5 separate regions of the Homo sapiens genome follow, and all the other regions are linked to region 1. Evidence: fine-mapped expression QTL. A gene starts in region 1. Each other region holds a variant in brackets. All regions are shown on one strand. Distances are from middle to middle. Region 1 holds the start of EHD4 (EH domain containing 4). Region 2 overlaps EHD4 (EH domain containing 4). Region 3 overlaps EHD4 (EH domain containing 4). Region 4 overlaps EHD4 (EH domain containing 4). Region 5 holds the start of LOC124903477 (a long non-coding RNA gene).

What was found.
Region 2: its variant is fine-mapped to the expression of EHD4 in whole blood (INTERVAL, PIP above 0.99).
Region 3: its variant is fine-mapped to the expression of EHD4 in cerebellum (GTEx, PIP 0.98).
Region 4: its variant is fine-mapped to the expression of EHD4 in whole blood (TOPMed, PIP above 0.99). The same link has a PIP of 0.9 or more in iPS cells.
Region 5: its variant is fine-mapped to the expression of EHD4 in thyroid (GTEx, PIP 0.92).

What each region holds. Positions count from the first base shown.
Region 1 is chr15:41,969,400-41,975,811 of GRCh38, reverse strand. It overlaps EHD4 (EH domain containing 4), which reads left to right and starts at 3,255. Exons shown (of 6, transcript NM_139265.4): 1 at 3,255-3,553. The coding sequence starts at 3,318. PLA2G4E-AS1 (PLA2G4E antisense RNA 1) reads right to left here and starts at 3,049. Exons shown (of 4, transcript NR_120334.1): 1 at 2,814-3,049; 2 at 1,854-2,008. RefSeq lists silencers at 3,204-3,333, 3,374-3,443, 3,544-3,813 and an enhancer at 5,576-5,795.
Region 2 is chr15:41,905,179-41,911,590 of GRCh38, reverse strand. It overlaps EHD4 (EH domain containing 4), which reads left to right. Exons shown (of 6, transcript NM_139265.4): 5 at 1,728-1,892. Among named protein-coding and RNA genes, the nearest start is that of EHD4-AS1, 13 kb to the left of the region's middle. The variant A/T (reference allele first, on the strand shown) is at 2,894.
Region 3 is chr15:41,896,040-41,902,451 of GRCh38, reverse strand. EHD4 (EH domain containing 4) reads left to right here. Exons shown (of 6, transcript NM_139265.4): 6 at 1,271-6,412. The coding sequence ends at 1,807. It overlaps LOC105370792 (a long non-coding RNA gene), which reads right to left. Exons shown (of 4, transcript NR_135681.1): 3 at 4,931-6,412; 4 at 3,637-4,285. Among named protein-coding and RNA genes, the nearest start is that of SPTBN5, 5.2 kb to the right of the region's middle. The variant G/A (reference allele first, on the strand shown) is at 3,958.
Region 4 is chr15:41,928,467-41,934,878 of GRCh38, reverse strand. All of the region lies in intron 3 of EHD4 (EH domain containing 4), which reads left to right. EHD4-AS1 (EHD4 antisense RNA 1) reads right to left here. Exons shown (of 4, transcript NR_120332.1): 3 at 6,373-6,412; 4 at 5,593-6,197. Among named protein-coding and RNA genes, the nearest start is that of EHD4-AS1, 10 kb to the right of the region's middle. RefSeq lists enhancers at 5,270-5,399, 5,420-5,499, 5,462-5,965. The variant C/T (reference allele first, on the strand shown) is at 3,274.
Region 5 is chr15:41,940,112-41,946,523 of GRCh38, reverse strand. EHD4 (EH domain containing 4) reads left to right here. Exons shown (of 6, transcript NM_139265.4): 3 at 3,360-3,457. LOC124903477 (a long non-coding RNA gene) reads right to left here and starts at 3,417. Exons shown (of 2, transcript XR_007064603.1): 1 at 3,132-3,417. RefSeq lists an enhancer at 3,291-4,148. The variant G/A (reference allele first, on the strand shown) is at 3,406.

The DNA of each region.
Region 1 (6,412 bases):
TCCAAAGTGGTTGTGCCATTTTACATTCTGACCAACAATGTGTAAGAGTTCCAGTTGCTCCACATCCTCATCAATGATTGGCATGATCAGTCTTTCCTAATTTTAGACATTCTAATAGGTATGTGGTAGTATCTTGCTGTGGTTTTAATTCGCATTCTCCTAACAAACAACAATGTTGAACATGTCTTCATGTGCTTATTTGCCATCCATACATCTTCTTTTGTAAAATATCTGTTTAGATCTTTTTTCCATTTTTTAAATGGAAATTTTAAAATTGGGGTTTTTACTATTAAGTTTTAAGAAGTTTTTAAATATTCTGGATACAAGTCCTTTATCAGATATGTGATCTGCAAGTATATTCTGTGCCTTGTCTTGTCTTTTCATTCTCTTCACAGTACTTTCAAAGGTCAGAAGTTCTCAAGTTTAATGAAATCCAATTTACCAACTTTTTTTTCCTTTAAGGATTGTGCTTTTGGTGTCACCTAAGAAATCTTTCCCTAACCCAAGTTCACAACAATTTTCTCCCGTGTTTTCTACTAGAAGTTTTATAATCTTAAGTTTTACATTTAGTTCTACATTTATATTAGTTTTATATCTAGTTCCATTTTAAGTTAATTTAGTGATGTATCTATTTAGGTTAGGTTTATTGATTGTAACGAATGTTCCATTGGTTCAGGATGTTGATAGTGGGGGAGGCTGTGTGTCGGGGAGGGTGGGGGTATATGGGAACTCTCGGTACTTTATGCTCCATTTTGCTGTGAACCTAAAACTGATCTGAAATTCACGAGTCATTATCACTTACATTCACTCTTGGTGTTGTACATTCTGTGGGTTTTGACAAATATATAATGACATGTATCCATCATTATAGTACCATAAAAAGTAGAGCCACTGCCATAAAAATCCTCTGTTCTCTGCCTGTTCATTCCTTCCTTCTCCCTAACACCTAGAAACTACTGACCTTTTTACTTCCTCCATAATTTTGCCTTCTCCAGAATGTCATAAAGATGAAATCGTACAGTACATAGCATTTTCGGATTGGCTTCTTTCACTTAGTAATAGGCATTTAAGTTTCCTCTGTGTCTTTTTATGGCTTGATAGCTCATTTCTTTTTAGTGCTGAATAAGATTCCATTGTCTGGATGTACCACAGATTATCCTTTCACTTACTGAAGGACATGTTAGTTGCTTCCAATTTTTGGCACTTATGAATAAAGCCACTATGAACATCCATGTACAGGCTTTTCTGTGGATATAAGTTTTCAATTCATTTGGGTAAATACTAAGGAGCTGATTTCTGCATCATATGGTAAGATTGTATTTATATCCGTTTGTTTTTATGTATTCTAAAAAAATACATCGAAGCTTTTACTTTTGTTGTCAAATATGTCAGCCTTTGCTTTCATAATTTCTGTCCTTAATGTTGGTTAGAAAGGCTTTTCCACCGCCAAATTGTATAAATCTCTTGTACCTTCTTCTAGTAGTGCAGTGGTTTCATTTTCTTTTTACATTTCAATCTTTGTTTTATTTTGACACAAGGCAGATGTCTAACTTTATTTTCCCTTGGCTTTCTTTTCACTTCCCTAGTTACATACAATTCCCTCCAACTATGTGACCCACACAACAACTCCAAAGGAGTTTCCATTTTGCTCTTAAGGAAACTAGGGCAGAGAGGTAACTCATCACATTTAAAATCACACAGCCATTAATTTACATAGTCAAGGTTCAAACCCAGATCTTTTGATGCAAAGTCCTGTTCTCTCATACTCCAAGTATGGTCCAGGGATGGGTAGCATTGGCAATACCCGAGAGCCTGTTAGAAATGTAGAGTCATGGGCCCCATCCCATACCTACCGAATCAGAATCCGCATTTCTGTTAGGTTGGAGAAGTACTGCAGGGTGTACTGTTTCCCCAGACTTAGGCCACATCAGAGTCACCTAGGGCATCTGTTGAGCTCCATCTCTCCTCAATATTTTAACTCAGTAGGTCTGGACTGAAGACCAGGAATCTGCATTTTAACAAGCATCCCAGCTCATAAATGCATATATGCAGGTGGCCCCATGGATCACACTTGAGAAATGCTCTAAAACAACTAAGAAATATTCCTAAGCTACAATCAAGGACACAAAAGGTGATTATTTCCCCCAATCTCAACTTAGATAAGTGAGTATCCTTTTAACCTAGAAAAGAAACAGGCCAGGGGCGGTGGCTCACGCCTATAATCCCAATACTTTGGGAGGCCAAGGCAGGCGGATCATCTGAGGTCAGGAGTTCAAGACCAGCCTTACCAATATGGTGAAACCCCATCTCTACTAAAAATACAAAAATTAGCTGGGCATGGTGGTGAGCGCCTGTAGTCCCAGCTACTCAGGAGGCTGAGACAGGAAAATTGCTTGAACCCGGGAAGCGGAGGTTGCAGTGAGCCGAGATCGTGCCACTGCACTCCAGCCTGGGCGACAGAGCGAGACTCCGTCTCAGAAAACAACAACAACAACAAAAAACAGCTAGGAGGTGACAATGACTCACATGTCAATATGTGGAAATAAAGTTGTAATAATGAGGATAATGTAATAATGAGAGTAATGACTAAATTTTCGGCTTTACAGAAAAACACATAAAGAAAACTAAGGGGAAAAAGCCTTTAGCTGATCCAGAATTTAGTGAGGGCAATGTGGAGAAGTAGGAGAAACGGCTACTCAAATAGATTCCAGTCCACTTCCCCTCAAGATTGTGTCAATTATGCCCGTGAGCCTGGGTCTCTTGGCCTGTAAAACGGAGTCATAACCACCCGCCCCCGGGAAGACAGAACCTGCCTGTCCACTTTCTGAACTTTTCATCCCCAGTATCGACGTCCAGAGGCCTGAATGAGTAAACGTTCCAGGAGATGGAGCAGCCTCCGGAGGCTCGCTTTGGGCAGCTCAGATTTACCCGGAAGCCGATGCCACCTGGCCAGAGGTGAGGCACCGGCAACCAGAAGGGGGCCCTGAGCATGACCGGTCAGTGCCACCCGGCCGGGAAGACACCATCTCCCCGCCCAGTCCTCTAGAATGACTCCGTCATCAATAATTCATTAAGAACCTCCTCTCAATTGGCTGACGCCTTCAGCCCTCTCTGGCAGAGATCCAATCAGGAAGGACCTGAGAGAGCTCGTCTGAATAGTGGGCGAGCGCGCGTGACGTAGCGGCCGAAGACTGGCTGTGGCAGCACAAGGCGGGGCCCTCCTCGGGCGGCGGCCAGCGCGGCCGGGGCGGCTCAGTGCGAGCCGGGGAGAGTCGAACCCGGAGCAGGGTCCCATCCGAGCGTGGACTGGCGGCAGGATGTTCAGCTGGATGGGGCGGCAGGCGGGCGGGCGCGAACGCGCTGGCGGCGCGGACGCGGTGCAGACGGTGACGGGCGGGCTGCGCTCGCTCTACCTGCGCAAGGTGCTGCCGCTGGAGGAGGCGTACCGCTTCCACGAGTTCCACTCGCCTGCGCTGGAGGACGCCGACTTCGAGAACAAGCCCATGATCCTGCTGGTGGGCCAGTACAGCACCGGCAAGACCACCTTCATCAGGTACCGTCACCGCCCCTCGCCCGGCTCCCGCCCCGCTCCGCCCTCCCCACGTGTGCGCCGCAGTCGGCCGCCTCCCGCCGCTGCCCCTCCCGGCCGGCGCGACCTCGGGGACCCCTCCCGGAGCTCGGCGCCCGGTGCCCTCGGCCCCGCCCCGGCTGGCCAGCCCCGCGCGCTGGAGGGTCCCGCGAACCCGCGCCCTGCGCACTCCGAGCCCTCCTTCCTTGCGGTTCGGAAGGCGTTGCTCCCGCTGGCCTCGTCCGGTCGCCCTGGCGGGAGGGTCCAAGGGAGAGAGGGGGCGCGAGCCATAATCAGCATATTCTTGACGAGGGAGTGATGCCTAGGGATGGAAATGGGGGGAGAGGCGTAGGGTATCCGAATGGGACAGAGTCCTAGTTGGAGAGTTTGTTTAACTATTCATTTGTTCAACTATTTCTTGAACAAATGAATGGCAGCAGGAGAGCGTATCGCCCAGGCCCCCTTCCCTTGAGGTCTTTACGTGCCACCCCACAGTGTTGTGGGGAGGGGATAAAGAGGCCGCCTACGTTCAGTTCATGCACCGCCTTTAGCCGCCCGTAGGAAGTGAGCTGCGTGTAGCAGCCGCACCAGCCTGTGGAACTAAGGGGGAGTGTCATATTACTATTTGTTAGTTTCCATTTCTTAGGTGGGTCATTCCCTCCTCGCTTACCCTTGACAACTGAAAATATTTGTCATGCTTACCGTGTTTCTGAAAGCACACAATCACTGTGCATACCCTGTGGTTCAAATCATATAGTTTCAAAAGAAGTGACTTTTGCTGGGAAATTATTTAGACAGAAACAGATTGCTTTGTTGATCACCTGTTTTATTTCTAAAGCAGCCAGCATATTTAGGCTCACTGTTTTTGGTAAGAAGAACTTATTTTTCTGACTTAAGCCGTGTATCAGTTGAAACAAAGTGCTGATCATTTAAGGTTTTGGTCCAGGGTTTTGGAAATTGTAACAATCTCTTCATCATTTGATGTGCAACAGGTGTTGAGAAAACTGCATCTATATTTGGATACATGCCATTTCTGTTAAGTAGCGACCTCTTTTTCTCCACTCCAGTGACCTAAATAGTTCCTACAAATAGAGTAGCTATCACTACAGGAAATATGTTAAATCCAGGCCTCCAGATACACTGCGAATGAATTCCACAAAACAAATATACTGTGTATTGAAATGTCGTTCTAGATAATAAATTGAGTGTGAAGAAAGTAATTTCAAAATTGCTTTATTTGGTGCTTATGGACAAGACAAAAATAGAATTAAATATGTCACCGTCACCCAGACACTCAAAATGAACCATAGCTGTATTACAGTAACTGGCACCTTGAAAGATGACAAATGTCACATTTAAGGTCTCAGTAATACTGTCTAGTTTTTAGGTACTAGGGATAATAAAGTGTTATGGCCAAGTGGTACAAGAGTGGGAAGCGGTACTGTTGAAACATACAAAGAAGAAAGGCATATATTTTTGTAATTTAGTGGTGGCATGTCCCCACACCCTAGGCATTTCCTCCTGTTTGTCTTTGCTGTGAGGTCCTTGTTGTGCCCAGGTGTCATCAGGGAGCCCCTGCTAGATGCTGTGCCAACCTGGAGATAATGCAGCCCTCTCTCTGCTCCCATAGACTGGATAGCTAGCCAGCCTGATTATCAACTCCCAGGAAGATGAATACAACTCACAGGAACATGAATTTATCTTTTGTATTTTTCCAGATTTCTCTCTCATTATATTCTCACTCTTCTCTCTGTTTCATTATTTGGAGAAATTTGTGGAATAGCTAAGCGCAGTTTTATGAAGGGTTCTGAGATTTGATTCCTGGCAGCTACCTCATCCAAATTGGCCACCTCTCAGCAGGTGCTGGAGCTGTGGGCCACCCTAGGGTGAGGGAGGAATCACCTTATTAGGAAGCCATTTGTTCTTGAGGCTTTCCTTGAGCTAAGTGGCTTTGTTGTTAGGTGATGTACACAAGGTAGACCAGTGAGGTTAGAAGAAAATCAGTGTGGGCAGGAAGCTTGGTGAGGCCACAGGAGACCTGAATTGCTTTTCAGATTGGAGCTAGGAGGAAGTGATTTAGCACCCGGGAGGAAATCCCCAAACAAAAGGGCAGCTACCCTGGAGACTTGTGAACTTGGAATTAAATATCACCCCAGACACTGTAAATGAACCATGGATTCATCTTGAGCGGAAGGGTTGGCCCAGGGTGCTGAGCATCCTGGATCCTGCCTTAGTTAGAGCCTGGTTAGTGGTCTGGGTTGTTTGCTTCTAGCGATTGGGCCCTAGAAGCTCATACTTGGCTGTGGGGTGTACCTAATCTACATAGCCATAGATTCTTATCTCCCTGGCTTCCTGCACATTCCAAGAGGTCACTGATGACACAGAACCTGTGCTGACATGGTGGGAATCTTCTCTTATTGCTGTTGGCTCTTCTGCCTTTGACTGGCAATAAAGAATTGGCCAGAGAAGGAGGGGAGATGGGCATGGGGGAAAGTGACCATGTCATCTTAGACTCTGTACTAGCCGAGGAAGGATGGATATGGAGCTCACCCAGGCTTGTGTCCAAAACTTGAGGAAAACAGATTTCAAAGATTCCTCCAGAAAATCCCTGGCCCCAGGTGCTGTGAAGGAAGACATTTCCACTGAAAAAGTATGAAGTCCATTTGAAATGAATGCAAACTACACAATTTTTTTTTTTTGAGACAGTTTCGCTGTTGTTGCCCAGGCTGGAGTGCCATGGCATGATCTCGGCTCACCGCAACCTCCCCCTCCCGGGTTCAAGCAATTCTTCTGTCTCAGCCTCCCGAGTAGCTGGGATTACAGGCATGTGCCACCACGCCTGGC
Region 2 (6,412 bases), 64 kb after region 1:
AGGAAATGATGCAAGGACAGCTGGTGAGCAGCTGGTTCTCCCTGATGGAACGTGGCAGCTCCTCCAGTCCAAGGGTGCTCCCTCAGCCCTGGCCCTCCCCAGCCCACCCACACCAAGCCAGGCATTCACTGTCGGAGGCAAAGGAGTTGGTATCTTACCACTTGCTCATCACAGCGGTTAAAGCCCAGGATTCTAAATAACGGATCCCAAACTTCGGGTTTCTCAAGTTATCTCTAAGAATCTTGTAAATCATTTCAATTGTCTTCATTTGAAAAATAAGTACATAAACAAGTTTGCTGGTGACAGAAAGGTTTAGCGTCATCTCTCCAAGACCATCCTCTCAGCGGTAGCCAGGCTGCACAGTGCATGCTTCTGTTAAACGACCCTTGTGCAGATGGGAAGTTGACATTGTCTGACCTCAGCATGTCAGACCTTGCATTAGGTACTTAGGTTAGCATCCAAATCCTCACAAAATGTTTTTGGCTGTGTCCAGCATGTGTCCACACACGGGCCCTCAGCTGAGCTATGGAATGTATCTGCTTACCCCCTTTATTTAATTTCAACTTCTACAAGATTACAGTAGAAGTCTGTTTTCTTTAATAGGATTTTCCGTTGCTACATAGTCATTTTCTTTTTGTAATCACCACTCTGTTTTTCATCCTTTCTTATTTTAGTTACTTACTTGACTTCACAATTACTCTGAAGTTCAAGATATACAAAGTAGCCGGGCATGGTGGTTCATGCCTGTAATCCCAGCACTTTGGGAGGCCAAGGTGGGTGGATCACCTGAGGTCAGGAGTTCGAGACCAGCCTGGCCAACATGGTGAAACCCCGTCTCTACTAAAAATACAAAAATTAGCCAGGCGTGGTGGTGCACACCTGTAATCCCAGCTACTCGGGAGGCTGAAGCAGGAAAATCGCTTGAACCAGGAGGTGGAGGTTGCAGTGAGCCAAGATCACGCTGTTCCACTCCAGCCTGGGCAACAGAGCGAGATTCCATCTCAAAAATATATATATACAAAGAGAACTTTTGTAGTGAACATTTCTTAATATCCTGAAGTTGGAAATCAGTAGAAGAGTGGAAATGTTGAGGCCAGATTCTCGCCCCTCCAATGACAGCCTGCTGGCTACCCCAAGCCCCAGTGATCAAGGTTTCTGGGGCTTCTGGGCTCCTCTCCCAGGGGGATCTTCTGCCATCCAGCCTGATCCCAGGCAGCTGGTCTTGTGCAGAATGACTTTAATTCCACCTGTAGAGATCTCAGAGTCTAAACCTCCCATAACAGGGGGGTTATGGGGATTCTCATCTCATCGTTCACTGGGTACAGATTTCCATGTTGATCAGCCATTGATGCCAGCCTCCAGTTTCATTTCCTGTTGCTCCCAGGCACCAGCCTGGTGAAACTTTCTCCTGGGTATTCTGGTTAATTGCCAGAACTAAGAGCTCTCCCACCCAGGCCCCACCCATACCACTCACTCCCTACAGACACCAGAATTGCCACTCAGAGGCACAACAGAACAGTAGCCGTAGAATTTCCCCAAGTCTGGCCACATTCCGGCCACCCTTGGACAGCTCCACTCCCCCTGGACCCTCCCCTCCTCCTGTCCTTGGGACCTGGTTTGTGTGGGTACCTGTTATGTGTTATGATGGAGTTAAGATGCAATCTTGTTTGTTCCTTCTCTGATGCAATTCTAAATGACACTTCCCTGCCTGATCTATACCCCTCCAGGTGCATGCCTACATCATCAGCTACCTGAAGAAGGAGATGCCAAGTGTATTTGGAAAGGAAAACAAGAAGAGAGAGCTTATCAGCAGGCTACCGGAAATCTACATTCAGCTACAGCGAGAATACCAGATTTCTGCAGGGGACTTCCCTGAGGTCAAGGCTATGCAGGTACTGGGAGCCCACTACAATGTCACGGGCAGAGGGCAGAGGTGCAGTGCCACATTGTCTGGCTGTTTGCTGGAGACAAATGAGAGTCCCATGGTTTAGGATCAAGGACAACGCATCTTCCTAATGGTGATCCATGATAATAGGCTATGAATAAAGCAGAAATTGCCTGTCTTCCAAAATGCGTAAACAAAGGAAACACATGGCCAAAGGTAAATGAAGCTCCCATGAGAAAGTCAGGTGAGCAGCCCTCTTAGACTGTGTCCAAGGAGGCTGGTTGATGTTGCGGTGACATTGGAATCCCAGAACTGTGAGGGAATCACAGCTGGGAGTGGCCTTCAGGGTCACCTTGGGCGGCCTCCTCCAGCCCTGCCCTGACCTGCCTCACGCCGTGGGATTATGTGCTCAGGCAGCCTTGCTGCTGCAGGCTCAAGGGCTCCAGCAGGGGCTGTGGGGCTCTGCGGACGCTGCTGGACTGCGTGGGCACAGGGAGGACTGTGCTTAAAGGCTGGTGCTGGGCAGCCATTGGCCTGCTGTCAAGGCCTCTCTTGAGTTGTGGCTGGGCAGCTCCAGCCAGGCAACAATGGGTGCTGCATTCAGCCGTCCTGCCCTGACCGGCATATCTACCTCTCTGCACTGCTGTTAGACGAGCGTGTCCTCACAAGCGAGGCCACCCATCTGGCTTCTGGGCTGACAGTCCTCACAGAGCCAGGCTGGCCGTCTTCTTATCTGCTGCAAGGACCCCTCTGCCCTGGGGGCCACAGTCCTCTCTGTAAAGCAGGAGCCACAAACTCAGATGCCTGCAGCCACCACCCAGTAACGCAAACAGTGGAGCAGGCCAGGCGAAAGAGAAACTCTGTCACCCTCTCTGGCTGCCTTTGGTTTTCCCACGTTTGATAGAGAAGAAGGTTCCAAGAAACATGTGTCAGCAAGGAAGAAAACCATCCCGAGGTGTGCTAAGAACATGTCAGGGGTCTCATGGCAGGGCAGATTGGACAATGCAG[A/T]AGCCCCGTCTAGCCCAGTGGTCACTGCCTTGTGGGACTACAGACCTGGAAGGCTCAAGAGAAGCTGGAAATCTGGATTTGTATGTCAGATCACCTGATTTTCACATTTAGGCTCAAAAAAATACTATGTAGGACAAACAAAGCCCACCTGCATATGGGCTGCACACAGAGACCACCAGTTACCATCTTTTGCCTTGAGCCACAGAGTGACAGCATTGAAGCCAGCATAGATTAAAAACTGCAAGCAGGTACAGCCCGAGGCAGGAGGAGGGAAAGGTGAAAGCAGAGAGGATACAGGGAGAAGGGAAGGTCGGGCAGAAGAGGCAAGGGCCAGCAGGTGATGAGAGGGGAACTTTGATCCTAAGGGGTTTTTTAATGCAAGCTTTATATAAATTATACACTAACTCAGAGGTGGGTTTTTCTTGCTGTTTTGATGACAGCTCTTTACACCTGGATTCAGAGTGAATCAGTCTAATATATTTGATCTGACCCAATATGCTTTAGCTGTATTTATTTTAAAATATATTCAGAGGGCCGGGTGTGATGGCTCATGCCTGTAATCTCAGCACTTTGGGAGGCGGATGCAGGCAGATCACCTGAGGTCAGGAGTTCAAGACCAGCCTGGCCAACATGGTAAAACCCTGTCTCTACTAAAAATACAAAAATTAGCCGGGTGTGGTGGCTATAATCACAGCTACTTTGGAGGCTGAGGCAGGAGAATTTGTTGAACCTGGGAGGCAGAGGTTGCAGTGAACTGAGATCGCACTGCTGTACTCCAGCCTGGGTGACACAGGCAGACCCCATCTCAAAAAATAAATAAATATATACACACACACACACACACACACACACACACACACACACACACACACAGAGCCTGGGCGCAGTGGCTCACACCTGTAATCCCTACACTTTGGGAGGCCAAGGCGGACAGATCACTTGAGCTTAGGAGTCAAGAGACCAGCCTGTGCAACGTAGTGAAACCCCGTCTCTGCAGAAAATCCAAAAAAATTGGCCAGGTGTGGTGGTGCATGTCTGTAGTTCCAGCTACCCGGGAGGCTGAGGTAGGAGGATTACTTGAGCCCTGGAGGTGAAGGTTGCAGTGAGCCAAGATCGCACCACTGCACTCCAGCCAGGACAACAGTGTAAGACCCCGTCTCAAAAAAATATATACACGCACACACAACAGAGAAATGTCTCTTTTCTTCCAGCAGTGAAATGGGTATTCCTGTGCTCACAAGCTGAATTGGGTTTTTCTGGTCACCAGGTGGTATTGGAGGGCTGTTGTGGCCTCCAGGAGCAGTCTCCCTGGGCAACTTCCCCATTCACACCCCTGGTTATGCCCTGTATCCCATGACCAAGGAGTAAGACAGCTGTTTCCTTGTACCCTTCAGATATTTCAGAAGGGAACTTGGTTTCTTGACCTAAATGAAAGTTATAAAGAAATACAGAGCCTGAGCTGTGGCCCAGTTGGGGCCTCTGTGCCTCGCTGGCTTCCTGAAGTTGCTACAGTGCCTTGCCACAGGGAGACGCTGCTCTTGAGCCCTGGGGCTCCACAGAGGCCTCCCTTGCCAGGCCTCTCCTGCTGGTCCCCTGTGAGCCCGATAATGTAGGGAGCAGGCTCTGGGACCAGAGCTACTCATGACAAAGCTAGCCTGGGCTGGCCAGGTCAGAAGACACCCAGGGTCCTCTGAGCTGGGGGAAGGCAACAAGGAAAGCATGATCTCAGGAGCAGCCATGGCCCACTGAGATGGAGGGTACAAGGAGGGCCAAGCCTTTGCTGAGAATCACCTGGACTCAGGTCTATGCCCAGTACCTTAGCACCACGGAAGGTGGGTGAGCAAGCAAGTGCAGGATCCAGCCAGCCACTCCAAGTGCTGACATAGGAGCAGGCTCTGTGCATGGTCTGCAGCCAGACCAGGTGTGTCACCCCAAGGGGAACGTGGCAGTGCCCAGGCAGGGATGCCCGCAACCCCAAAGCCCCAGAGGGGGTGCTACAGTGTGCTAATTAGCTCTTTTAGTTGTGCATCATGTTAGCAGCTCAGTCACCCTCTTGCCCCACTCTGGCCCATGGCTCCGGTCCAGCTCGACCCCACCACTGCTTCTGTTGAGTGGCACGGCTACCCTGCAATGGTGAGGGCAGAGGGCCAGTGTTACAGCCTTTCTGGGTACCTGCGTTTGGTGGGTCCCAAGCTTTTGTCCTGCATCCAAGAAGAATAAGGTCATGCTGACAATTGAAGAGTGATGAGGGTGGAGGATTTTACTGAGCAACAAAACAACTCTCAGTGAAGAGGGGATGGGAAGATTGGGTTGTCTCTCCTGAAGTCAGGTCATCTCCCCAGTGTGGCTGAGTCTGGGGTTTTTATAGGCACAGGATAGAGGAGTGCATGCTGATTGATTTGTGAGTATGCAAAAAAGGTTAAAACAAAGGCACCAGTCAAAGGTGGACATAACAGTGTAAAAACAATTAGGGAAGGGTAGGTATATGTAAAATAGGTGAAGGGTGAGGATCAATCAAAGAAAAGCAGCCAAATGGAAAGACAGGTTCTCAATCCAGTCCATGGATTTGACTTGTAGCTTGGCCTGCAGGCTTTAAACTGCCTTTGGCTTGAAGATAGGGTTTCACTGGAGACCCACCCCTATCTGCCTCAGCATTTTTCTGCCTCCTGCTGCTATCACTGTTCTAGGCCCCTGGAATAAATCAACACAAAAAAATGAACAAATGAGGCTGGACATAGTGGCTTACGCCTGTAATCCCAGCACTTTGGGAGTCTGAAATGGGAGGACTGCTTGAGTCCAGGGGTTGGAGAACAACCTGGGCAACATAGTGGGACCCGATATCCATTAAAATATTTTAAAATTAGCCAGGTGTGGTTGGCTCATGCCTGTGTTCCCAGCCAGTTGAGAGGGTGAGGTGGGAGGATGGCTTAAGCCCGGAGGTCGAGGCTGCTATGAGCCATGATCACGCCACTGCACTCCAGCCTGGGCGACAGAGGAGACCCTGTCAAAAAACAGAAAAAATGAACAAATGGGGGTAAAAATAATTGACAGCAACCCCACTGTAAGGACACATGTTTCTTGTTACAATATGAGCACTGTTGTGCTTCCATGTAATTGAATTATCTGATGTCTGATATTTAGTATCTCTCTCCCACGTAAGTCTGTGGCTCCATGAGGTCAGTGACCCATGCCCTGTTCACTGCCATATCCCCAGCATCTAGGACGTGGTGAGTGCTCAATTCACACAAGCCAAGTGAATTAGTAAGTTAGTGTAAGGCCATATCACAGCAGGCTCTCAGGCCCTGACGCAGCCTCGATTCCCACAGGGCTTATAGACCAGGGGTTCCCCGTGCCAACCCCTAGAAGCTGCAGGAAGAGGCCTCCTTGGGAAGTAGGCTGAGGCCCAGTCACATCACCCCATTCCTTCGGAGAATCCCCAAGGAACAAGGCAGCCTGGAGCCTGTCAGGAATGCTTAGTGTCACCTGATACTGCAAGCTAGCTTGCTGTCACCGGAAGCT
Region 3 (6,412 bases), 73 kb after region 1:
CCCCAAGCCCCAGAACAGGGGCTGGTGCAGAGTAAATGACAAATAAAAGTTGGTCGGGTAGGTGGATGGATGGATGAATTGTTGGCTGAATGGATGGATGGAGGGTTGGTTGAATGGATGGATGGTTAGTTGGAGGATTAGTTGGACAGGTGGGTTGTTGGATGGATGGATGGATGGATGGATGGATGGATGGATGGATGGATGGATGGAGTAACCAAGGAGAACCAAGGTAGGAAGGTCAGTTTCTACGGTGCCATCCACAGAGCCTCTGTGGCATCCTGTAGTCTGCCCCAGCCTGGTTGGGCAGTCACAGTGTTTCCCAGGCCCCCTCTAGAGCCTGTGCTTCTGCTGCTCTGTCTGCTGACAGGCTGCCTCACTCAACAGGTAGAGCTAAGATATGTCCTGACCTGGCCAGTGATACTCAGGCTTACCAGCTACGTTTATTCCCTCGTGCTCCCCAGCCCTACTCCCTGCTCTTACAAGTTCCAGCTTTTGCTTATTTGTCCATATTTTAGAAATGACAGTGGATTCATGATGATTATGTTGTATATGCAAGGTCTCCGTGGCCCTGCCTCGATACCTTCCTGGGGTAGCACAGGTGCCCCTGGTCAGGCCGTACTTGGTGGGGCTGGTCCTACGGGGTTCCTGTTGAGTAGCGCCCTCAGCTCATTCATAAGAGGTTAGAGCCACTAAGAAGCTGTCCTACACTACATTTTTTTACGTGTTCCGAAAACAAGGTATTTAATTAGTTGTTTTATGTAAACATAGTCCTTCTGTCACAGCTCTGTGTTCCAGCACAGAGAGCATTAGTCAAGAGCCAGGAGACAGGGGCTCTGCTTTGACTCTGCCAGACAGCCCCTCACAGCTCTCTGTAAAATGTGGTTCTAAATGCCTGCCCCTCCTTCCTCCCAGGATTGCTATGAAGATCGGCTGAAGTGTGTAGTGAAATCCCTTGAGAAATAGAATACTAACTCTAGAGCATTTTTAAAAAGGCAGGTGAAAGAAGGTTTCTCAGAGTCCTCGGAGGTTGCTGTCGCTCATGCGGCCACCAGCAGAGATTGGCTGCCATAGGAAAAACACTTGTTTCTTGTTCCAAAACAACCACTCCTATATGTGGTACATCTGGATGTGGGAAGCTCCCAAAGAGTGCACTCCTGAGTAGTGGGTGGGACGTCTGCCTGGGGCAGAATTAGTCTCCCTCCAGTGGCCCCCAACTGTTTCCCCCTGAAGAGACCACATGTAACCCATCCTGTGGTTTGTCCTTCTGCAGGAACAGCTTGAGAACTATGACTTCACCAAATTCCACTCGCTGAAGCCCAAGCTGATCGAGGCAGTGGACAACATGCTGAGCAACAAGATCTCGCCCCTCATGAACCTCATCAGCCAGGAGGAGACGAGCACGCCCACGCAGCTGGTGCAGGGCGGCGCCTTCGATGGCACCACCGAGGGCCCCTTCAACCAGGGCTACGGGGAGGGTGCCAAGGAGGGCGCCGACGAGGAGGAGTGGGTCGTGGCCAAAGACAAGCCCGTCTACGACGAGCTCTTCTACACTCTGTCGCCCATCAATGGCAAGATATCAGGTGTCAACGCCAAGAAGGAGATGGTGACCTCCAAGCTGCCCAACAGCGTCCTGGGCAAGATCTGGAAGCTGGCCGACTGCGACTGCGACGGCATGCTTGATGAGGAGGAGTTCGCGCTGGCCAAGCACCTCATCAAGATCAAGCTCGACGGCTACGAGCTGCCCAGCAGCCTGCCCCCCCACCTCGTGCCCCCCTCGCACAGGAAGTCCCTGCCCAAGGCCGACTGAGGGGTGGGCTGCAGAACGGGGTGGGAACTGGGGGACCTGGGCCTCAGGCCTGCTCCACCACTGACTCACCGAATGACCTTGGGCAAGGCACTGCCCTCTCTGTGCCTTGGTTTCCCCATCTGTAGAATGGGGAGGGTGGACACTGGAAACTAGATGACTTCTTTCACCTCCAAAATTCCCTTAGTTTCTATGAAAATATTGGGGGTAGGGGGGTGGATTAGGAGATTGAAGGGTTGAGAAGAAAGAGAAATTGTCCAAAGAGTCCTCAGAACCTGCCTGGAGAAATGCGCATGGGGGTGGGCCTGGTAAGTCCCAGGAACCACAGGAAGTGAGCTAAGGCTCACCCAGAGCAGCTGGGTCTCCAGGCTGCCTGGGCTTTTTGTCCTCATGAACAACTCTGGAGCAGCTGTCTGTCCCTCAGAGGGCACCTGGAGGCAGCAAAGATTATCTTATTTATTTTATTTTGTTTTCTGCTATATTTAGAGTGGCAAAAAAATAGAGCAGAGGGTTTCTGCTGTCTCCAGACTGTCTACCAAAGAGAAGGCGACAGATGCCTCCTGGGTTTGGAAGGGGGATGCACTGTGGATCTGCCATCCATTCTGCAGTCTCCAGCAGAGCAGGCAGTCAGGCCCCAGCGTGCCTCCATCCCAGTGCCCCGATGACCATCTGGTCAGCCCTCCCAACCTCCCTTCCAGGGGGCTTACCAGCAAAGCCATATTCGGCTAGGAATTTGGAATTCACAACCTTTATTAACCCCTGGCAAAACTTCCCGTTTGCATGTCAAATCACATTGAAGCCTGAAAATTAGCTTTTCTTACTGGTTTTTCCAATAAGTAATAGCAAAGCCCACTTATCATACTTAAACTACAGTAAAGAAAAGAGGTGGTTCTCTGCAGTGATCGTTTAGTGTGGCCCTCAAACATTAAATATCCCGAGGTCTCCTTGGTGGGTGGCAGGATTTAAATTCAATCAAATCCTGTCCTAGTGTGTGCAGTGTCTTCGGCCCTGTGGACACAGGTGAATGAGGGACCAGCCCTGCCCTGGGCTGTTGAGAAGAGATCAGTCCACCCAGAGTTAGACATTGTTTTTGTAGAAAACAGGCATTTATTATGTCTAGGGTTTTGTGTTTTTTTTTTTTCCTTACAGGATAAAAGCCTTTATACAGAAACAAAATGGAACCTTTCATATAAAACCTTTTCTTTAAAGGCTGTGTGGTTCGTATCATGAATGCCCATCACGAGGCAGGATTCGGGCACATACCTGTACTTCTGCTCCAGAGTGTGCGCTCCCCAAATCCCCTGAGTAAACCTCTCTGGACTGCTGCTCAGACACCTGCGTCAGGTGGAGGTGCCTCCCCCTCTGTGGGCACCAGCTTGGGGAGGTAGGTGACTTTTCCTTGCAAATCTCCCTGCCTCATCTCCAGAAAATTGCATACCTGCATGGCCTCTCTGCATTATTTATGCAGGAAGAGACACGAAACAGCAATGGCCACATGGTATGGGGGCCTGCTGGCACCAGAAGTGAATGAAATCAGAACCGTCCCACTGAGTCTTCCAAAAGGCACATAATTTTTTTTTTCTGTCACCTGCCTTTGGTGACAGGGTCAAAGGCACAGATTGAAGAGAAAATCTTGATTTGGGAGAAGCATTTATATCCAGATGCCTACCCTTACACTCCCTAGCTTACTTTCTACATAATTTAGTTTTAAGAGCAGGAAATGCATAACATGGTTTTTAGTCTTAACAAGCACTTAAATTCATTAGACGCATAGAAAAGAACCATTTATTATTTTATTATTTTTATTTTTATTTTGAGAGGAAGTCTCTGTCACCCAGGCTGGAGTGCAGTGGCGCAATCTCAGTTCACTGCAACCTCCGCCTCCCAGGTTCAAGTGATTCCCCTGCCTCAGCCTCCCAAGTAGCTGGGACTACAGGCACCCGCCACCACGCCCGGCTAATTTTTGTATTTTAGTAGAGATGGGGTTTTACCATGTTGGTCAATATGGTCTCGATCTCCTGACCTCGTGATCTACCCACCTCGGCCTCCCAAAGTGCTGTAACCTAAGCAGACAGTTCTGTGAATGCGTGAGGACCACCTGAAGTCTGCAGCCACGGTGGAGGTCACCAAAGGGTGAACTGAGAGAGAAGAGG[G/A]AATTCACTTGCCCAAAGGTTTACAGATGCCCAGGCAAACTGATTTTTCCATCCAGAATTATCTTGTTCTTTAACTCTCCTCAATTGTCATATATAAACATGAATTTATATACATGTGTGTCACATGAGTATGTCGTTTTAAAACAACGTGTACATATGTAAGTTTTGTCTGGATACAGAAAGCTGCTTTAGAGGGCAGCAGGTTGAGGTCTCTGATTTCTCCGTGGAGGAAAACCTCTCAGGCACTGTGATCTCCCTACCTCTGCGCTCTCAGGTGGGAGAGGCGTCAGGCAGCGGAGTCCTTTCCCTGCTGGCACCTGGTAATGTTCTTGGAGAGAAAGGAAAAAAAAAGGAAATCATTTGGCCACTTTTCTTAATATCCTCTTACATGCAGTCATTCATCAAGAAAAGTTGACTGGAAAAGAAAACACTAGAAAATATGAGGGATGGCGACCAAGTGAGGACTTGTATCTTCCCAGGACCAGTACAAAGTTCTGTGAATGTGTCCACACCACCAGCTGTCTCCCTACCCCACACGGCAGGGCGGCAGGGCCGACCCTGGGGCCTGCTCACCATCACCGTTGCCCTTCCTGCACCACCCCAATTTTCAAAGAACCTCTTCCACAGAGTGTTTATGTATAGGAGAGAGGGTGGAAGTACCTAAACTCTAGAACTACAACATCTAAGAAGCTGAGGCCCTGTTTTCTACACAGCATATGGTATCGCATAACACAAACCTTCCGGTCTTGAGTTTAAAGGGAAAATGAAAACTCCAGCCTATTGCTCCCACAGTCTGCTTCCAAGTTGTCAGCCTGCCAGTGAGGGTCTCCTGACCCCGTTTGTAGAGAAACACTGCACTAAGACTTGGGAATCTCCCCAGCTCCCAGGGAGGGGTGGCACACAACAGCCTTCCAACCTGCTTCCGCCTCCTGCTCCAGCCCTGCAGCGTCTGTCAATTCATTTCTCAACTCACCGCACTTGGATGGCCTGGGGGCAGGGTTGCTCTTCTGGGGGAGGGTCATTCATTCAGTTGGCTTTTGGCTTTCCTTTCTCCGGGCTGGGCCTGGTTCTCTTTTGAACACTTGTCGTGCTGCAGCAAGAGCATCTTTGGATTTGGGGCTGTGGAGCTGTGGTTCACCCGCGGGAGTCACAGCCGCGGCCTGGACCTTTCCACCTCGCACCCTCGCTCACCCTCCTTCATGATGCCTGGAGGATGCCTGAGACAATTGCCTTGAAGATGAGGAAAGTGTTTCACTGTTTATTTTCTCCATGGGATGTAGCAGGCAAGCATGCTTAGGACAGAAAACCACTGAGTTTACTCAGGTAAATGCGGGCCTAATACAAGAGTATTGGGTTCCAATGTTGGTTAACCAATGCAGTTAATACGCAATGCTTCTATTTTTTTTCTTTTTGTAATCTTATTTAGAAGTTTCAAACAAAAAGACATAGTCTGCTGATCAATAAACATGGAGCTGCCCTCTCCCACTGGCTCATTTTCCAGTGGCTGCGTGCTGGCCTCTCGGAGCAGAGTGTGGATCCCTGGATCCAGGTTGAACCGGGGGAGAAGAGTTAGGGAGAGGGTGTGCCTGTGAGCCCCAACTCTTCCTGTGGAGAGAAACCCAAAATGCAGCCGCTTCAGAAGGAAAGCGGCCCCATCAGGTGGGGACAGAAGAGGGTAGGCAGCAGAGGCCAGGTCTGTGGACAAAAGCCCCACTTCAGAGTGGTTGGAAGCCAGGACAGGAGGGACTCATGGAGGTGACCGCTTCACAGGAGTCCTTTCTCCAGTCGTGCTAGGGAGGAGCCCCTGCCTGTCCAGCACTGCCCCTGCCTCTTGCTGTACCTTGCCAGTGTGCCCTCCCCCCGCCCACTACCATAGTAGGCATCTGGCTTTTCCCACCAACCCATCTACCTTTTTGGTGGTCCAGACCTACAGTCTCCTTGCAGAGCACTCCTCCTCCCACCCTCACTTCAAGTGAGGTTTGGATGAGATTGACCACATCCCCTTGGTCACAAATATTGGCTCAGGAATGGACATGTGGCCCTGTTCAAGCCTATGAGAGCCAGGACCCCCAGACTTATGTTAGAACTCTTGAGAGAGATACTCTGTCTTCTCTGAACCTTGCAGTATATAGAAATGAGCCTATTGATGCAACAATATAAATGGCACTGAGAGGGGTGTCCAGAGCTGCTGGGGTCAGGGGAGGGAGGTCAGCCTGGCAGAAGCCATCTTGTGGAGCATGAAAATGAAAGAGACCTTGAGAAAGGCCAGAGGAATCCAGGCCTGTGGTGACAACATTTGAGCTGCTGGATCAAACCTCACCTGAAGTCCTTCCTATTCCTACTAGATATTTTTTTCCACTGTGTGGGCCAATGCATTCCCTTTATACTGTGTAAGCCAGGCATGGTGGCTCACACCTATAATCCCAGCAATGCAGGAGGCTGAAGTGGGAAGATC
Region 4 (6,412 bases), 41 kb after region 1:
TGTACTGGGCAAGAACAGCCCTGGGCCTGCCACTCAGTTCTCTGGGCGTGTTTGGTTGCTGGTTTTTCTCTTTCCTTCGGCCGTGCAATTGCTGTCCTTTCCTTCTCTGTCATACATGTGGCATATATGTTCTAGGCCAGCCTTTCCCTGCTGCCCCCTCCTGCTCTGGAGTCCACACGGCTGCAAATGATGCTCGGAAGACTAGCACGGTGAGCCCCAGGGTCCACAGACAGTTATCACCTGGGGAGCTGTTAAAATGCTGCTTCAGCCAGGCAGAGGGGCTCACACTTGTAGTCCTAGAACTTGAGGCTGAGTCGAGAGGATCACTTGAGGGCAGGAGTTCCAGACCAGCCTGGGCAGCATAGAGAGACCCAGTCTCCACAAAAAATAAAATAAATTAGTTGGGTGTGGTGGTGTGTTCTCGTAGTCCTATCTCCTTGGGAGGCCGAGGCAAGAGAACCTTGAGCCCAGTAGTTTGAGGCTGCAGTGAGCTATAATTGTGCCACTGTACTCCAGCCTGGGTAACAGAGCAAAACTCCATTTATTTATTTGAAAAAAAAAAAAAAAAACTTCCTGGCACATGGTTCAGGGGCATCTGGGCAGGGTCCAGAGGGTTCTGATACAGGGGGCCCCATTTTGAGGAATCTGGGTTAGGGCTGAGCCACCACTCCTGAGCCTGAGCCTGTCCCTCCTACATACCCTGCCATCCCCAAAACAAGTGAAAGAAGGGGCTGGCAAACTTGGAGAACCTACCGAAACCAACCTGGGCTTTGTCCTGCATCTCTGTATGCCCGAGGGTGAAGGCTGCCCTCTCAGAGAACGGAGGGGAGAACTTGAGTGAGAGAGACGATGGGGTGGGGCAGGCTCTGTGACTAACCAGCCTCCTTCCAGGGCAGGGCTTTGGAAGGAAGCAGAGGTGACTGTCCCGCAGGAGTCACCAAGTGACCCTGTCGGCCTCATGGGCGTCTGACAGGGAGGGCGTGAGGCCTGATGCTGGGTCCTCTGTCTGTGTCTCACTGCTTGCAGGAGCACCCCCGCCTAGCCTACTTCGGAAGCTAGGATTTTTAGGAACCCCTAATGAAAATAAAGAAGGAATTTTTTTAAGTTTTCAGGTACACTTTGAAACGTTTAATAACCTTCCCTGGTTTTATGGGGACATTCCTGTTACACAGCCTCAATCCCTGTTGCTAGAGGTGGTAAAGCTTCTCTCCCTCCTAATCACTGTGCACCAGTGGGGAACCCCCAGCCTAGAAGGTGGGAGGGAAAGATTATAAATGCAGGATTCTAGGTGGAAGAGAGGCAGTGGCAATCCATGCCGAGAAACACTGGCCGGGCACGTTTCTCCCTGTCCCTGGCTCTTTCCCTTGCCAGCTGGGCAACCTGGGCGAGTTACTTCACCTCTTTGAGCTTCATTTTCCCCTGCTCTAAAACAGGGGAAGGTACTTTCTCTCGTACAGTGGGATCTTACGAGAATCTGAATGATCTGTGTTCATACCTAAGTGCTCCATAGATATCAGCCGTTCCTGTTATCTATGAAGCTCAGAGTGAGAGGGAAACAGCAAAAGGTCCTCCCCAGGATACACGTGTGGCTTGAATTCAGGTTTCATGTACCTGTGCCCGGCAGGCAGGCAGGCATCTCGACCATCCAAACAAGCCTGTGGTTGGGGAAACGCTGAAAATAACAAGGCTTTCAGGGAGCATCTGTATTTTCCTTAGAAAGACAGAGGGAGGTGGGGAGATGCAGGCACACTCCTGTGGGCCCTGGAGGAGGCTGACCTGAGCTTGAATCCCAGCATGGGGCCCTGTGAGCCTCTTTCCGCTTTTATAAAGTGAGGGAATTTTCCTTCCCAGGGTTGTTTTGAAGATAACATGTGTAAACCATTTAACATGGATCATGATTAATAACTGGTGATAGGGGCGGTCATGATTCATTTTATAGAACTGGGGTGGTCCCAGAATAGACGGACCCAGCTCAGAGGGCCCTCTCGGCCAAGCGCTCAGCATTTCCCAGGGGAGGGCAGAGGATGGCCGAGTCCTGGGACTCAGACAAGGGCCTTGCTCTTCCAGAGATCCAAAGCAGGGGCGGTGAGGGTGCGTGAAGTATTTGGGCCTGACCGTAGAGCTATGGAAAGCCACGAGAGTGCAGACAAGGGCTGGAGGTGGGAAACCTGCTGAAGAGAATGACCCGGGAGCAGTGTTCCCGGGTGTGGCTGAGGGGCCCGGCTTCTGGCACTCCTCCAATTCTTTTTGCCATAATCCTCTTTCTTGTATCTAGGGATATTTCTCACACATGCCCTGATGCAGTTTCCTCAAGAAACCTCCATTCACCTGTAATCTTAGTCTCTTTCTCAAAATTGCCTCCTGTTGGAATCCAAATCGAGATGCAAAGCACAAATCAGACCATGTATGCAGCGTTTCACCTTTCTGAAGCACCCTGCGGTGGGTAGGTGTGTATGTGCTTGGGACAAAAGGCTACAAAAAGATAGTGAAGAATGTCTGTACCACCCATATCCCCCAGTTCCTCTCCCAGAGCAGACCCTGCCTGCAGACCCTGGGGCTTCTCCCAGCTCACCCGCCCACTCACGTGGAGCCCTGGCGGGATTCGCTCCACTGCCCTGTGTCTTGATTTTCCCACTTATAGTAAATCTTGGAGCTTGTCCATGTCTGTACTTCGGAGCTGCCTCCCGCAGTCCATCATATAGATAGACCAGAATTAATAGGTGCCATCCTTTTGGTGGGTGACATTCAGGCTGTTCCTAATCTTTTGCCGTTACAAACAGTGCCACAGTGGATTTACACAGTTTAGCATGTACGGTGCAAGTGTATACAGTTGGCACGATAACGTGCAAATATATCTTGAAAATTGCTGAAAAGGGAGGAGCTTAAAAAAAAAAAGAAATTGCTGGCTGGGCGCGGCGGCTCACACCTGTAATCCCAGCACTTTGGGAGGCTGAGGTGGGCGGATCACGAGGTCAGGAGTTGGAGACCAGCCTGACCAACATGGTGAAACCCTGTCTCTACTAAAAATACAAAAATTAGCCAGGCGTGGTGGCGTGCGCCTGTAATCCCAGCTACTCAGGAGGCTGAGGCAGGAGAATCACTTGAACCTGGGAGGTGGAGGTTGCAGTGAGCTGAGATTGCGCCACTGCATTCCAGCCTGGGTGACAGAGCTAGACTCCGTCTCAAAAAAAAAAAAAAGAAATTGCTGAGTAGATTTTAAGTGTTCTTACCACAACAAAACAAGTATGTGAAGTAATGCATATGCTAATTGCA[C/T]TGTCAATTTAGCCATTTCACATTGAATGCATATTTAATTTTGTTTTATTTTAATTTAATTTTACTTTATTTTATGTTTTATTTTATTTTGAGACAGGATCTCGAAGCTCCGTCACCCAGGCTGAAGTGCAGTGGCACGATCACAGCTCACTGCAGCCTTGACCTCCTGGGTTCAAGTGATCCTGCCACCTCAGCCTCCTGAGTAGCTGGGACTGTAGGCATGCACCACCATGCCCAGCTAATGTTTTGCATTTTTTGTAGAGATGGGGTTTCACCTTGTTGCCCAGGCTGGTCTCAAACTCCTAGGCTCAAGTGATTCACCTGCCTCAGCCTCCCAAAGTGGTGGGATTGCAGGCATGAGCCACTGCACCCAGCCTCAGTGTATACATATTTCAAAACAACATGTTGGACATGATAAATATATACAATTTTTCTTTATCAATGTAAAAAAATAAATGAAATAGAGACTAATCCAAAAAATGTGCAGATGTAACTCTAAGATGCATTCCTAGAGGTGGAATTTTGGAATCAAAAGGAGCGGCGGTCTTTTTATTATGTTAGCTGGTGCCAAAAATGCCACTGTAGAAGGCATGCCTGTTTACATGCCCACCATCTCATTATGATTCTAATTTTCATTCCTCATGGTTAGTGTGGTTGAGCATCTTTTCATGTATACCTTTTTAAAGTATTTCCTTTTCTGGAGGTATTTGACTGTTTTGAAATACTGTTGGTAACTACATGGGCTACTTTTAGCAAAATCAGTGAGTCATTTTTTTATAAGGAGCCCCGTGTGGATTCCCATGGTTCCCACTGACTGGGTCTTTCTTTCCATCTGTGACATAAGCCCAGAAATAACTGTCTCTGAGTAATAGTTTGGCTTGAGGAGCTGGTTAGCTGATAACTTAATTGCTAGAGCTGGTCTGCAGTGCCAGCTGTTGTCCACAGGCATGCAGGACACTTGTGCAATGCCAAGATGTTTGAAAAGAGGAACAGGGCAGGGCGAGGGGTGGGGTCTTCAGGTCAGAAGTTGCTTTCTAGCCCTTTATGACCCCAGTTGTCATCCCGTTGGTTTAACATTTCTCTTTAGAAAACTGTAGCCTGAAGAAACATTACCTTTGCCCTTCTGAACCACAGAATGACAAGATGCATTGTCACGGTCAAAGCCTTGCTTATAAATGTTTGACCTCATCACATTTGGGTGGAGTCTGTTGGCATTTTGCCTCAAGAAAATTCAGTGCAAGTAATGTTTGCCACGCCAACTCCGTCTGATTTATAGACATATTGTATGAGACTTTCTAGCCTGACTTATACACAAAGCCCACTTGAAAAATGAGGAATGGACAATTTCCATGTGCGTGACACGGGATTCCTGGATCTGTTCATCCTAATATATAATAATATCAGAAGGTTAGATGGGGTGACTTCTTAAGCATCCTTGGAAGTCATACATTCCACAACCCTTCCTCAGATAGTTTCTTTCAGTATAGAGTTGTTTGGAATTGGATGACAATAAGTTAAACTTTGGGGCAACTAATTACACCTATAGAAACATTCAAGGACCTTCAAATTGGCCCAAATGCTATATAGCACATGAATCCAGTAGAAGGGATGTAATAAAATGAAACTTACTGTTTGATAATTGTGTCATTTAGAGTTGTTCATTCAGTATTCCTGTAGCCATCTGAAGGGTCTACTGTAGCCATCTGAAGGGTCATCTTAGGCTGGCACTGTAACTAGTTCGTGTCTGTACTATACAGACGCTGAGCTAAATCGATTTTCCTGGGAATCTGGCTTTTTATTTCAAAGAAGCTTACTGTTTGGAACCACCCTATATAGCTAAAATTTAAGATCTAGAAAGAATCCTTTTTGATCATCTGACTCACAGGTATAGAAACTGAGGCCCAGCAGAATGAAATTGTTAAGCCAGGCTCCAGGACTTACAGGATTTTCTTGGTAGGTTTTTTTACCAACTTCCCTCTCCAGCAAAGAGCCTAAAATGACTGATAATACCATGTTGCTGTCTTTCTCCAGGGCTCAGCCTTCTTTAAATGGGCCTGCTTCTTCATCTGGTATTTAATCTGAGATGGAAAGTGAGATGCGAAACCCAATTTTCCCTTTCACTTGGTCACATGCCCAGAAGCAGCAGCGTTCAGTGGGCCGAGTACTGGCGTGGAACCTTCCTCTGTTCCCATGTCTGTGGCGTGGCACGAACCTGTGATGTGGGGCTCTCCCGCCCTTGCCCTGGAGGGGCCTTCAGGGACATGTGGCTCACCCATCTGTTATTGTCACATATCCCCCAGAGGAAGGAGGGACAGGCTGTGAGGTTAGCTTGTTTATTTTATGAGGAAACAGGCACAGAAAAATTAATTTACAGAGTCTTGGACAAAATCCCAAAGGAAGGAGGAGTGGGAAGAGCAGAGAGCGGATAAACAGCACAACGCCATCCCTGGACACGCCTAGTTCTTGCTTTTATTTAAATTTTGGTAGGTTCTGTGGCCACACCCACTTTAGGCTAGGTACTGGGAGACAACCTCTGGGGTTTTCTGGTAACCAGTTACATTCTCCAAGAGGTGGCCATTACCAGCTGAAAGGTTCGAGGTGAACTCACATCCAGCCTCTCCAAAAGGAGCTTGGGAACCTGTGTTCCCTCCGGGCAGTCTCCCAGACCGGGTTTGGTATCAGCCCCTCCCTGCCACTGCCCTGCATCTGGTCAGCTGGGGAAAAGGGGGCAGGGAGGAGAGAAGGCCAGTGGAGCAGAGCCATTCATTCTGTGGCTTATTTTGTCATCAGCAGGTCCCATTGCTCCCGCTGATTGGGGACTGCCTCTTCCTCGGGGGTGTAGTTGCTGAGATACTGCTTCCCCCTCAGGGTGGTGCTCGGCACACCCACCATAGCCTCTGGCAGGGAAATGCTGGAATCCAGACCTTCACCAGAAGCACCATTGTAGAAGAAAAAGAACAACCTCCTCAATAATAATGCAAGTGGGCCAATAATTTTTACAATATGCATATTTGTTTTCTTGATATAAAAATAATATATATTCATTGTAGAACACTTAGGAAACCACAAATCAAAAAGGAGAAAATAAAGTACACTCACCTCTGATTCTACCATCCTGGTACACATATGGTGCAGCGCA
Region 5 (6,412 bases), 29 kb after region 1:
CTCCTGGGTTCAAGAGATCGTCCCCACTCAGCCTCCAAAGTGCTGGGATTACAGGGAGAGTCATGGTGCCTGGCTTTGCTCTCTCCTTTTACTGTGTGGCAGGACTCCTAGCAGCTTGCCTGAGACCTCATAGCCTGGACCATTACTTTATCCCCCATCTCTGCTACCCCTGGCCCTTCCTTAGACGTGGAGAGGATATGGAGTTGAGGGGGCAGCCTAGGATCTTCAGTTGCTCCGTCTTCTTCTCTTACTTCAGAAGACAACATTTATCAGGTCATCCTCGGGTGAGGGCCATGTGAGGCTCCTGGGTTGAACCAGCATGTGTCTGCATATTTTACGTGAAATGTAGAGGGCAAGGCACAGATCCTCCTTGTGTTAATCTCCCCAGGAAGGAGTAGGAAATCCATCTTGGGACAGCAAATCTGTGCTTGGAAGCATTTCAATAAGCTGGGCCGGCCAGGGCCCCCTTACTGGGTGTCAGGCACCGTTCAAAGCACTTTCCGTGCACATTAACTCCAGGCTCACCACAACCTTACAGGTAGGGCTGTGAACCTCTGCTTATAAAGGAGGAGACTGGGCGCAGAGGAGTCACACGACATACCTTGCCCAGTCCCACGGCTGTGAGTTGATGGGGTCGGGACATGAACTTGGCAGTGCTGACTGCAGAGCCCAGGTTCTTCACTACTGGGCTACGACTACCACTGCACTGCTGTTATACACACAGCAAGTACGTTTGCCGTGCGCCTCCCTTTCTCAGAGAAGAAGCATGAGGCATGATTGCTAGAACACCATTAGGATTTTTTCTGATCCCAGCATAACTTCGTACGAATGCATTCATATGCAGTTGTCACCTCGCAGCATGAGCGTGGCACCACAGGGTCTCAATGCTCCTTTCTGTTCTCTTGCCTGCCCCTCACCCCTGGACACTGTCTTTCAGGGAGCAGAGTCCAGCTGTGCACCCAAAACCCCAGCTGCCCACTCTTGAGGTGCCCCAGCCAAAGCTCTCCCTCCGCCTCCACCTGCTGCTCCTCATCCTCTCTTTTTCAGCCATCCTGGGCTCCTCGCTTTGCCCGCTTGTATGCCATGTGGTGACGTCAGCACATCTCACGGTGGCTTGCTCTGTGGCTCCCGTGCCTGGCCTCTGCTGTCATGTCAGGAGGCCTGGGAGCTGTGGAAAGGCTGTCACTTTATACACAGGGAGTGAACAGTGTGCAAATTTTGAATCCCTCTGTTAGCCTCACCTGAGAATCTAGGGGGTGGCTGTTTTGGAAAAATGGATATTGAGTGTGAGCTTGTGGTTTGGGGAAAAGATCAGCCTGTCCACGGGAATGGTTTGCAGAAAATTGTTTCACGTAGGTGTGATATGTTCAGCTCCGCCAGATGTCTCGGGCCATCTGATGGAAAGAATGGGACGGCACTGAGAGACAATCATTCCTGACAAGAAACGAGGTTCACCACGGATGTGCCCAGAGCCCTGTTCCCACCCCAATTCTAGAGAATTGAATAATGGCATGGTGGGGTTTTTTCTGTGAACTTACAAAGAATGCTTGGTGAGCCTCATGTGCTTTATTCCCACAAACCTCTCCCCGTGTTGGGTAGTAGGGTTTATTTAAAGGTTGGGGTACAGGAGGGGACTGTGCACAAGTGTCTGCAGACAGGTGGAAATTGGGGGCTTCTCTTCCACTAACTTGACCCTTTACTTTTAATGTTATGAGGTTTTTAACTTTGTGGGTTAAATTCCACCCCACTGACATCAGAAACAGTAGGTTGCAGTCTGCAACCAGCCGTGCATTAGCAGCATGGCCTCAGAATGTCATAACTGCTTTGTGCTTCAACTTTTCCACCTGCAAAAGGATCCTAATGTCTTTTTCTATATCTTCCTGGGCCGATTTGAAAATGTAGGAAAGACTGTGTGAAAAATCGTATCCCAAGCCCCTTCAGAGAAAGTGATTTTGAAATGTCAGTAACGGCCGCTCATACCCAGGGCTGTGGTGTCCACATGTGCACTGTGGAGGCTGGCCAGGCCTCCCTGTCCTGCATTCCCAGCATTTTTACTTTGTGAGTAATCCCCACCACTTCCATCGTACGGAAGAATTGAGCTTTTAGCTTTCTGCCCACACAGACACAGATGTCAGCCATCCATAGTAAAGGAAAAGGAGAGGCATTCTACACTTTCTGCCTTAAACATGCACAGTGCCTCACAAAGGTCCATCCCAGACCCTGGTGCCCAGGGTGGAAGTAACAAAGCACTTCCTGCCATCACTTTTGGAGTTACTCAGTCTGAAAGCTAAAAGGACATCGCCAGACCCTGTCGGGAAGCCACCATTTTCATGTGAGGAACCCAAGACCCAGAGCAGGGAGGCCCTTACCCAGAGTCCCATAGCAGATTATCAGGAAACGCTGGGCAGAACTTGAACCCAGGTCTGCTGACCCACAGGCTAGATTTTTCCTCCGCACTCTGCTTCCGTGGAGTGGATACAAGGGCAGTGACTACAGGGAAAGGGACCAGGATCAGGAGGAGGAGATGGTATCAGGCAAATGAGGAACAAGAGGGGCCTAAAGATGCTCAGCCAGGGCCTTCCCCAACCTGGTCCCCTCACCTACTCTCCAGCTCCCCTAGACTCCTAAGCACCTGGAGGATGTTGGGTGTCACAGGTGCCTGCCCCTCCCTGGCCCTAAAGCCATAGGGGACACTGGGCTGGATGCTAAGTTCCTGGGGCATCAGATGGGGAAACAGGCCCCAGTCCCTTCAGCTTTCATGCTAGGAAATAGGCAGGGAGCTTGGGGCTCTCCAGCCCAGTGGGCCAGTGCATCCTGAAGAAGGCATGGGATTCCCAGGGGGAGAGGCCCAGGATGCTTGGGCAGGGGCCAGCATGGAGCCAGGAGAGGTGAGGCCCATGGCTTTGGAGGCAGGCTGACCTTGGTTTAAGGCACCGCTCTGAGTGACCCTGAGCATTACTTAACCTCTCTTATGTTAAGCATAATTCCTTCACCTCATGAGGTCAATATGAGGATCAAATGAGAGGATATTTGTAAGATACCTGCATGTTCAATAAATGTTAGCTAAAATCAAAATGAACAGAAAGGCATCAGGTGGCAGATGGCAGCAGGTGCTTGTGCACCTCTCATACCTGTCCCATGGGCCAGCATCTGTTCTCTGTGGCTGGATGGAGGTGCTATCAATCTCCTCCAAGCTCCTACTTCACAAACAACTTCATTAGGCATCCTCAGTTTCTGTCAGTCTCCTTCAGGCCCCCACTTTACAGATGTCAGTAAGCCCAGAGAGGCCAAGAAGCCCCATGGTTGGAGCACTCTGTGATGCCCAGTTTCTGACCCCTCCTTTGATCCGTCTCTTCCAGATTCATGTGCTCACAGCTCCCCAATCAGGTCCTGAAGAGCATCAGC[G/A]TCATCGACAGCCCCGGCATCCTTTCTGGGGAGAAGCAGCGCATCAGCCGAGGTCAGTGCCTGTCCCTGCCCCTCCCCACCAAGTGCTGGCTGAGGCCCTCTCTGCTGTGAGCAGAGGATTTCTGTCCCTATATTATTCTATCCGTCCTCCAGGACAGCTGTTGGGCAGCTGAAGGGGCCCCAAGTGTCAACCAGGAGTTCATAGCATCAAAGACTCTGCCCCCTCCAGAGGCTTATATTCTGTGAGAAAGACATTTGTCAAGTTACACATGAGTAAATGAAGATGAGGAGTGGGGTAAACAATGGGAGGTATCGAGGTGTGAGGGGACCTGGCTTGGCCTCGGGGGTGTTGGGAGAGGCTCCTGGAGGAAGCAGCATTGGAACTAGGATCTGAAGGAGTAGGAATTACCTAAGGGAAGCTGTGGGGTAGGGAGAGATTATGAAGCATTCAGAGGGGATCTGTGAAGGATAGAAAATGCTTGTGCCGAAGCATAAGTTTCTCCAGCCTTCACAAGACAAGGCTGAGGCAATAGCTGCTTCTAGGCCTGTGCTTTGTAGTCAAAACAGATGGGTCTGCTGGGTAGAGTGGCTCACGCCTGTAATCCCAGCACTTTAGGAGGCCGAGGCAGGTGGATCAGCTGAGGTCAGGAGTTCGAGAAGAGCCTGGCCAACATGGTGAAACCCCATCTCTACTAAAAATACAAAAATTAGCTGGGCATGGTGGTGGGCACCTATAGTCCCAGCTACTCGGAAGGCTGAGGCACGAGAGCTGAACCTGGGAGGCGGAGGTTGCGGAGAGCTGAGATCATGCCATGGCACTCTAGCCTGTGGGCAAAAGAGCGAAACTCCGTCTCAAAAAAAAAAAAAAAAACAAAAAACCGGTGGGCCTGCTATCTCCCTCCGTCCTGGAGGAAGGGGGCATCAGGGGCAGACCAGAGGACAGAGTTGACTTACGGAGAGGAAATGCCTGATCGGGAGGGTCAGGATGGGTTCCTGCCATCACAGGTCCAGAGGCAGCTCAAGTCTTTTCCTTGCCCTGGCCCTTGAAACAAAGGCGGGTTGCTGGGAGGGAGGAGATGGAGCAGATGCATCGCTGCCATCACTTCTGGCTGAGAACTCTTCACAACCCCTTGAACAGCAAGTCGGTAGCACCGTGCTGAGAAGTCTGGGCATGCCAGGGTTGAGCAGAAGCCTGTGTGGGGTCACGGTCGCAGGTTATGACAAGGCAGTGAACACCCCACAGCTCACAAAGCAGAAGTGCAGTTACATAGGCCAGTGAGGGTCCCGTGACAGGGGTCAAGAAAGGGATTCCGAGGCCAATAAGCCCTCCTTTCTCTTGGCATTTTGGGAATGCCATCTCTGCTGCTCCGTGGTCCCGCAGAGAGCTCGGGGCTATGCTGAGCCGAGGCCTCCCAGGGTGCCTGCTGTGCCTTCACTGTTTCAGTCAGGGACTTGCCAGCTATGGAATGCCATTAAGGTCACCTTTCCCGGGCCTCCAAGAACCTTGCAATTATGAAAAAAAAACAAAAAAAAAAACACCAAAAAACAGGTTAATGCTATTCATAAATATCTTGTTGGCTTTATTTTCTATTATAAAAGTATAGATGTTTATGGCAAAGGATTCAGTCAATGAATAAGAATTTAAAAAAAACTCACTGTCACATTTAACAATTATTAATGGTTTTCTCTCACTTCTTAGAGACTTTTTCCTGCGCATATGCAAACACATTTCTAATAGAAATGGGATTACCATGCACATTTTCTACACCTTGATTTTTCTTCATAACAGTCTACCTTGGACATCATTCCATGCCAGTATATTCAGATTATTTCATTCCTTTTAATAGCTACTTGGGTTCCATGAAAGTGACATAATATAGTTCATTTTGCTGATTTGTGGACATCATGATGGTTAATCAGTTTTTATGCTTACAAATAGTGCTGTGGATGGTCGTCTTTTTATGTGTGTCTTTACACCTCAGTGCCAATCAATTTTTTTTTTTAAGAGTCAGTTGAGGACCATTAATTTAGCCCCAGAAAGGTTGCTCTGCAGATAGTATGGATAATAAAGCAGGCCCATGTTCCACAGCTATTCTGAGCTGCCCGTGTTTCACTGCTTCTCCATTTCTGACTGAATATGCTGGAGAAATATGTGGTCCTGCTAACTCTTTCTTTTTACCTCTAAATTTTAAGGCCTCCGGATTTTGGCTCCCACCATATGCATTTGTTTTCATTGGTAGGCCTTTAGCCAGTTCTGTTCACCTGAGTCTTGCAGCGTCTCTCCTTTGCTTAGTAATCGTGTCTTTCAAACTGTAGCTCCCTTACAATAGTGTTGACACGTGGATTAATGCTTCCAGAATGCTTTGAAGATCAGTTCTTTGTATCACTTTATAATATGATCTGACTCATATCCTGGTCTGACTTACTATGGCATGTACTTACTCACATCCTATGCACAGAAATAGCATATATGTTCCAGCCAGTCGGCGGTCCCTGCCACACCGACGGACACAGCAACAGGTGGGGAAGGACCCAGAGCCACAAGCGATGACAGCACGACGGGCCACAGCTGTGGTTCCCAAGCCCGGTGCCACACGGTGTTAGGGGCGCAGCTGGTGGTGGAAGTCACTCAGCTGACATTTTCAACACACTAACCCCAAAGAATGCATACTGTTGTAAAGCAGCTTCAGCTCAAACGATTGCAAACAGTGCCACGTTCTCACGTATACTCACACCTACACCCAGCTTCGTAAGACCAGCTTCATAAGACCACAGCCCCACCTTTGCCAAGAATTAATGTCAACATGGGATAATAGACTGGGTACAAACTGTGACCCCACAAGATGTTTAAAGCATCCCCCACTGACTTTATTGGCGGGTCTTTGCCTCCCTTATGGGCATTGTGCCTGGGAAGGAGGAAAGGTGGCCGCTTGTGTACTGCCCTCCACTGCTCCTCCTTTCCCCTTTGTGCGGTTGATGATTAACCCTCAAAAGCTGAGTGGCTGGG